Linked DNA regions of Homo sapiens. The protein of the gene in region 1 purifies or fractionates together with the protein of each later gene. This does not show direct contact. Each region holds a gene or a part of one and is shown on either strand. Other genes may lie near its edges.

The links.
Region 2: the proteins of URB2 (region 1) and WDR89 purify together in Homo sapiens (affinity purification with mass spectrometry; one large-scale study listed by BioGRID and IntAct). This does not show direct contact.

The regions. Positions count from the first base shown.
Region 1 is NC_000001.11:229,629,210-229,633,035, forward strand, and holds part of URB2 (unhealthy ribosome biogenesis protein 2 homolog), read left to right. Parts: intron 1-3,059; coding exon 3,060-3,236; intron 3,237-3,826. UniProt on the Homo sapiens protein: Essential for hematopietic stem cell development through the regulation of p53/TP53 pathway.
Region 2 is NC_000014.9:63,596,567-63,600,392, reverse strand, and holds the end of WDR89 (WD repeat-containing protein 89), read left to right. Parts: intron 1-419; coding exon of another isoform or gene 420-450; coding exon 451-1,614; 3' UTR 1,615-3,354; downstream 3,355-3,826.

The DNA.
Region 1 (3,826 bases):
TTCATATCAACTGTGTCTGTCTCCCAGATGATGTATAAATATTAGTAGTATTAGAGGTTAAGCTGTAGGTAATGTGGGGGAAGCCAGGACACAAATCCCAGACTTTCAACTCTTAACTTACTTTTTTGCTTCGTGTGTCTGATACATTCTGTGGTCATTCTGAGCAGTCTTTGTATTTCTAACTTTTAGAACTTGGTACATGCATATCTCAGAGATACTGCAGGTTTGGTTCCACGTCACTGAAATAGATCACAATATTGTGAGTCACAGAAATTTTTTGGTTTCCTAGTGCATATAAAATTTATGTTTATACTATACTGTGGTTTGTTAAGAATGCAATAGCATTATGCCTAAAAAAAGTACATATCTTAATTTTAAAAAATTGCCCAAAAATGCTAGTGGTTATTGGTTATCTGAGCCTTTAGGGAGTCATCATGCTGGAGGGTCTTGCCTTAATGTTGATGATCTGGGTAGTGATTGCTGAAGGTTAGGGTGACTGGCAACTTCTTAAAATAAGACAACAGTGAAGTTTGCTGCATTGATGGAGCTTTTCCTTTCATGAAAGACACAGCATTTTACCCACAGTAGAACTTCTTTCTAAATTGGACTTCTCAAAACCTGCCACTGCTTTATCAACTAAGTTTAAGTTCTATTCTCAATCCTTTGTTGTCATTTCAGCAATGTTCACAGCATCTTCACCAGGAGTAGATTCCATCTCAAGAAACCACTTTCTTTGCTTATCTCTAAGAAACAACTTATCCATTCAAGTTTTATTAGTCCCATCTTCAGGCTCCACTTCTAATTCTAGTTCCCTGGCTATTTCCATTATATATGCAGTTGCTTCCTCCACTTCAGTCTTGAGCCCTTCAAAGTCATCCATGAGGACTGGAATCAGCTTCTTCCAAACTCCTGATAATGTTGATATTTTGACCTCTTTCCATGATTCAGGAATATTTTTACTGGCATCTAGAGTGGTGATTCTTTCCAGAAGATCTTCAGTTTGACTTTCTCCACATCCGTCAGAGAAATCACTATGGCACCTATAGCATTAGGAAATGTGTTTCTTAAATAATAAGACTTGAAAGTCAAAAGTACTCCTTGATCATGGGTTGCAGAATGGATGTTGTGTTAGCAGTCATGAAAACAACATTCATCTCCTTGTACATCTCCATCGGAGCTCTTGGTCACCCAAGAGCAGTAATCTTCTTATAGGAATCTTTTTGTTCTGATCAGTCTTGACATGAGCTTAAAATCTTCAGTAAACCATGCTGTAAACGGATATGCTGTCATTCAGGCTTTGTTTTTCCATTGACAGAGCACAAACAGAGTAGATTTAGCATAATTCTTAAGGGCCCTGTGATTTTGGGGATGGTAAATGAGCACTGGCGTCAAAGTTACCAGCTGCATTAGACCTTAATAAGAGAGTCAGCCTGTCCTTTGAAGCTTTGAAGCCAGGCATTGACTTCTCTTCTCTAGCTATGAAAGTCCTAGATGGTAGCTGGGCACAGTGGCTCACGCCTGTAATCCCAGCACTTTGGGAGGCCAACGCAGGTGGATCACCTGAGGCCAGGCGTTCGAGACCAGTCTAGCCAACATGGCGAAACCCCTAAAAATAAAAAAAAATTAGCCAGGCATGGTGGCGGGCACCTGTAATCCCAGCTACTCAGGAGGCTGAGGCAGAAGAATCGCTTAAACCTGGGAGGTGGAGGTTGCAGTGAGCCGAGATCGCGCCATTCCACTCCAGCCTGGGTGACAAGAGCGAAACTCCGTCTCAAAAAAAAAAAAAAAAAAAAAAAGAAAGTCCTGAATGGCATCTTCCAATAGAAGGCTGTTTCTTCTACTCTGAAAATCTGTTGTTTAGTTTAGCCAACTTCATCAGTGATTTTAGCTCGACCTTCTACATAACTTCACCTGGAACTTTTATGTTATGAAGATGGCTTCTTTCCCTAAACTTCATGAACCAACCTCTGGTAGCTTCTAGCTTTTCCTCCGCAGCCTCCTTACTTCTCTCAGCCTTCATAGAATTGAAGAGAGTTAGGGCCTTGCTCTGGATTAAGCTTTGGCTTAAGGGAATGCTGTGATTGGTTTGATCTTCTATCCAGACCACTAAAACTTTCTCCATATCAGCAATAGGCGGTTTCACTTTCTATCATTTGTTGTTCACTGGAGTAACACTTTTAATTTCCTTCAAGAACTTTTCCTTTGCATTCACGATTTGGTTAATTGGCTCAAGAGGCTTGGTTTTGGTCTATCTCACCTTTCAGCATGCCTTCCTCACTAAGCTTAATTATTTTTAGCTTTGGATTTAAAGAGACATGCAGCTAGTCCTTCCACTTGAACACCTGGAGGCCATTGTAGGGTTAGCTGGCCTAATTGCAATATTATTGCGTCTCAAGGAATAGGAAAGCCAGAGGAGAAGGAGAGAGGGGAAAATAGCCCGTCAGGGTAATAGCATTTTGGTGGAGCAGTCAGGATGCATAGAACATTTATTGATTAGGCTTGCTGACTTACAAGGACACGGTTCATGGTGCCCCAAAACAATTAGAATAGTAACATCAGTGATCACTGGTCACAGAGTACCTTAACAAATATAAGAATGGAAAAGTTGGAAATACTGGGAGAATTACCAAAATGTGGCAGAGACATGAAGCAAGCACATGCTGTTGGAATAAAGGATCTGATAGACTTGCTTGGCACAGGGTTGCCATAAACCTCCAATTTGTAAATGCAATATCTGTATCTACAAGGCACAATAAAATGAGGTATGCCTGTATAACCTCAAAAAACGGGTTAAGACGTGTTAGTTTCACCTGAAACTTTTAATTTGCCCTAGCTGAAGACAAATTTGTTGTTTTCCTGTTCTTATCCTTTAATAATAAACATTTTAAAATACCAGAACACGTAAGTAATATTATCAAAGGTAAGTTGTAAAAGAGAGGTTCTCCCCCGCCGCCCCCGTGGCAATTGGATTTGCTTATACCTGTAATGTCCCTATAATGTCTAACATCTTTCTCTCAGCAAATAAATTTATTTTCAGTGTATGTGTCCTTCAAATTCAGGTGTTACTTGATTGGGCAAGACAATCATTGGTTGCATTTTATAAGAAAAAGCTTGAACTGAAGGAAGATATTGTTGAAAGGCTTTGGATCTATATAGATAACATTTTACATAGCAGAAAATTGCAGAATCTCCTCAAGAATGGAAAGACCATTAATCTTCAGATTTCCCTAGTCAAGGTAATTCACTTTTCTGTTCTGTATGTGTTGCATGCATCTCCATTGATTTCTTGTTAATGCTGGAAACTTGTTTTAGTGTCAATTGTATGAAGATATAGGAAATACTAAGGTAGGAGAAAAAGGATGTAATATTATTGGAATTAAAATAGTAACTATTGAATGTGTATCATATGCTCTAAGCATTTTGTTATTTAATATTCAAAAAAAGCTTGGAACGATTTCATAAACAGGTCATTGATTACCTTTTTAATTGGAAAAGGTAGCTAGCAAATTATGCTTCTCTGATTTGTTTTTCTTCTTCTTTACCTTTCTTTTGGGCTAGAGGGAGATCAAAGGCCAAAATCCGGACAGGAATTTCCTCAAAGGTTTTTTTTTTTTTTTTTTTTGCCACTACGGCCTTCGAGCCACAAGTGCCACTAGTGGCTTGGCCGGCAACCCGGGGCCACCTCAGTTTTTGACTGAAAGTGATTTTGAAGTCTCAGATCAGAAGTAGGAACTTCATTGTCAAAACTGAGTGTGTTTAAATACCATGAGAATAGCTAGATACAATAAAAACTACTACTAGTGAGCACTTCATGTGTGCCAGGCTC
Region 2 (3,826 bases), on another chromosome or scaffold:
TCCTGAGTAGCTAGGACTACAGGCATAGGCCACCATGCCCTGCTAATTTATTTTTTGAAGAGACGGCGGGGGGGTCTCCCCATGTTGCTCAGGCTGGTCTCTAATGCCTGGCCTCAAGCAGTCCTCCTACCTCAGCCTCCCAAAGTGCTGAGATTACAGGTGTGAGCCACCACTCCTGGTAGTGAATTCAGTATTAAAGAGTGATTGAATTAGAAGGCAACTGAGTTTTAGTTACATCATAGGAAGGAAATGATTATAGTATTAGAATACATTTCTGTTGATTGATTGATTCATGCCAGCCCTCAGAGGAAAATGTTCTTGATTTAATTGCAATTTTAGAGAAACTTCAAGTTAAATTTTTTTATGTGTCTCCCTTGTTAAGCATTAATTTTTATTTTTATTATTATTATTTTTTACAGAGTTTTACTACCCTTGGATGCTGCTGTTGACATGGAAAAGATTGAGGAACAATTTGCTAATCTGCACATTGTTAAATGTTCCTTAGGAACCAAAGAGCCCACTTACCTTCTTGGTATAGACACATCAAAGACTGTCCAAGCAGGAAAGGAAAACTTGGTTGCTGTTTTATGTTCTAATGGATCAATCAGAATATATGATAAAGAAAGGTTAAATGTACTACGAGAATTTAGTGGATATCCTGGACTTCTTAATGGAGTCAGATTTGCAAATTCCTGTGACAGTGTATATTCAGCATGTACTGATGGCACTGTGAAATGCTGGGATGCTCGAGTAGCCAGAGAAAAACCTGTTCAGCTCTTCAAGGGTTACCCTTCCAATATTTTTATCAGTTTTGATATTAATTGTAATGATCATATTATTTGTGCTGGTACAGAAAAAGTTGATGATGATGCATTGTTGGTGTTTTGGGATGCAAGGATGAATTCTCAGAATTTATCTACAACTAAAGACTCACTTGGTGCATATTCAGAGACACATAGTGATGATGTCACTCAAGTACGTTTCCATCCCAGCAATCCCAACATGGTAGTCTCAGGTTCATCTGATGGCCTGGTAAATGTATTTGATATTAATATTGATAATGAGGAGGATGCACTGGTTACAACCTGTAACTCAATTTCATCAGTAAGCTGTATTGGTTGGTCTGGGAAAGGTTATAAACAGATTTACTGCATGACACATGATGAAGGATTTTATTGGTGGGATCTTAATCATCTGGACACTGATGAACCAGTTACACGTTTGAACATCCAGGATGTCAGAGAAGTAGTTAACATGAAAGAAGATGCTTTGGACTATTTGATTGGTGGCCTATATCATGAAAAGACAGACACATTGCATGTTATTGGAGGAACAAACAAAGGAAGGATTCATTTGATGAACTGCAGCATGTCAGGACTGACCCATGTGACTAGCCTTCAGGGAGGGCATGCTGCTACAGTCCGTTCTTTCTGTTGGAATGTGCAAGATGATTCTTTGTTGACTGGAGGAGAAGATGCACAGTTGTTACTTTGGAAACCTGGAGCTATAGAGAAGACCTTTACAAAGAAAGAGAGTATGAAAATAGCATCCTCTGTGCACCAACGAGTACGAGTTCATAGTAATGATTCTTATAAAAGAAGGAAAAAGCAGTGATAATGCATTTGGCACTTTGTTTGGTAGGTTTTATAGTTTCAAATAGTCCTTCTTGTTTACTACCCATGGTAGACATGTTTAAAGCTTTATGTAAAAACAAGCCAGTTAGCAAACAGTCCTGGAAAAATATGGTGAGAATGGTTTAATTCCGGTCTTCACATATTCTAAAAAATTTTAAAGCCTCTAAGTATAAAATCAGTGAGTTGAAAGTAAAATTTCTTATTTAAAGAACCCATCTGTTAATGTAGTAAATGTTGGCTTTAAAGAAATAGCTCCGATAAGGACTTTTTAGAAGGAAATACTTGGTAAAACTTAATAAAACAGGTGGTTGGCTGCATTTTTTAAGCCCAGTTTTTTACATTTTAAATTGTCTTTATTGTGTATAAAACCAGATTAGACTATATTCTTCATCTGAGGAGCATCTATATGTTTAATACACCTAATGTATTATGCTGGAGTATTTAAATGTAAGTATTTTAATGAGTAAATAGAATTAACCTTTTTTACAAATGAAATGATAGGCATCTATGTAAAGTGAGAAAAATATGTTTCGTAAATATTTGCATCTTTAATATTGTTAGTAAGTAGTAAACAGGTGTTTTGCTGATTGAAAGGAAGTTATCTTGGTAAATTGAGACTCAAAGTGAAATACAAAAATGAAAATATTTATAATAGGACTCGACTTGGAGAAATTGCTATTCTTCCTGTTGTCCAAACCATAAATCTGAGGATAACCTGGGCTTTTCTCTTTCCTCTTCTCCTAACCAGTTTTTCACCAAGTCCTGTGCCATTTCACCTCCTAACGTCTGTCAGCTATCCTTTTGCCTTTACCTCACCACTATTACCCTAGAGAAGACTTTCATTATTTCTCATCTGGATTACCAGCTCGATCTCTAATCTGCTTCAGTTCATCCTTCTTGCTACTTCTAGGCTAAACATCAAAAACAGATCTGGTAGGGGCGGGGAAATGAGGGGGAAGAAACAAAAACGTGATGGTGCCTCATGCTGCTTAAAATCTTCAGTACATTGATGTTTTGATGGCGGACTACATAAGCGTTAAAAATTGTGTTTTTCAGAATCTTTAAAATATAAGACAGTGCTATCTAGTGAATAAAAAAATTAGTTTGAAAGATATCTGGAGAAATCGCATTCATAAAACAATTGGAAGTGAAACTATTAAAACAATAGGGCTTTTTAAAATTAAAAATATTTAAAATTCAAAAGTAATTAATAGTGTTGGAAGATGTAGGTGAGAAAATATTCCTGAAAGTAGAACTGAAAGAGACAAAGAGAAAAGATGAAAGCCACAGAAGATAAATACAGGGGTCAAAACCAGACTAACAGTTTTAGAAAGTGAAAAAAGTTAAAAAAGAAATGGGGGCAGTGGGTTATTAGAAATAACATAAATGGCTGGTATGGTTTGTCTGTGTCCTCACCCAAATTTCATCTCGAATTGTAATCCCCATAATCCCCATGTGTCTAGGGAGAGACCTGGTGGGAGGTGATTGGATCATGGGGGTGGTTTCCCCTACGATGTTCTCCTGATAGTGGGTGAGTTCTCACAAGATCTGATGGTTTTATAAAGGGCTCTGCCCCTTTAACTCCTCACTCTTTCTCCTGAAGCCTTGTGAAGAAGGTGCTTTGCTTCCCCTTTGCGTTCCCCCATGATTGTAAGTTTCTTGAGGCCTCCCTGGCCATGCTGAACTCTTCAGTCAATTAAACACTTTCCTTTATAAATTACCCAGTCTTGGGCAGTTATTTATAGAGTGTGAAAATGGACTAATATAGTGGCTATTCCAGAACTTCAATCTTTAGATTGAAAGGCACAGCAGAGTGTCAAGTGTAATGAATGAAAAAGATCCACATCAAGGCATAGCACTGTGAAGTTTCAGAGTAAATAGAAAATCCTGCAAGTGTCCGGAAAAAAAAAATCACTTAGGAACAGATTTACAGTTGTGTTAGACTCATTAGCAAATCTGGATGACAAAAGATGGTGGATCAATGCCTTCAGAGTTCTGAGGACAGATTCCTACCTATTTGAATTTACAGCTCTCCAAACTCATGCAGCAAATAGATGATAAATTTTTTGAGATATCCCTTGTCAAATGAATATTTCCTAGTTGTTCTCTGAACCTCAGGAACCAAATTGATACAGCTAACAAAGTATCCATTTGTAACCAAACTCTCATTGACTAAACCCAGGAAATAGTAA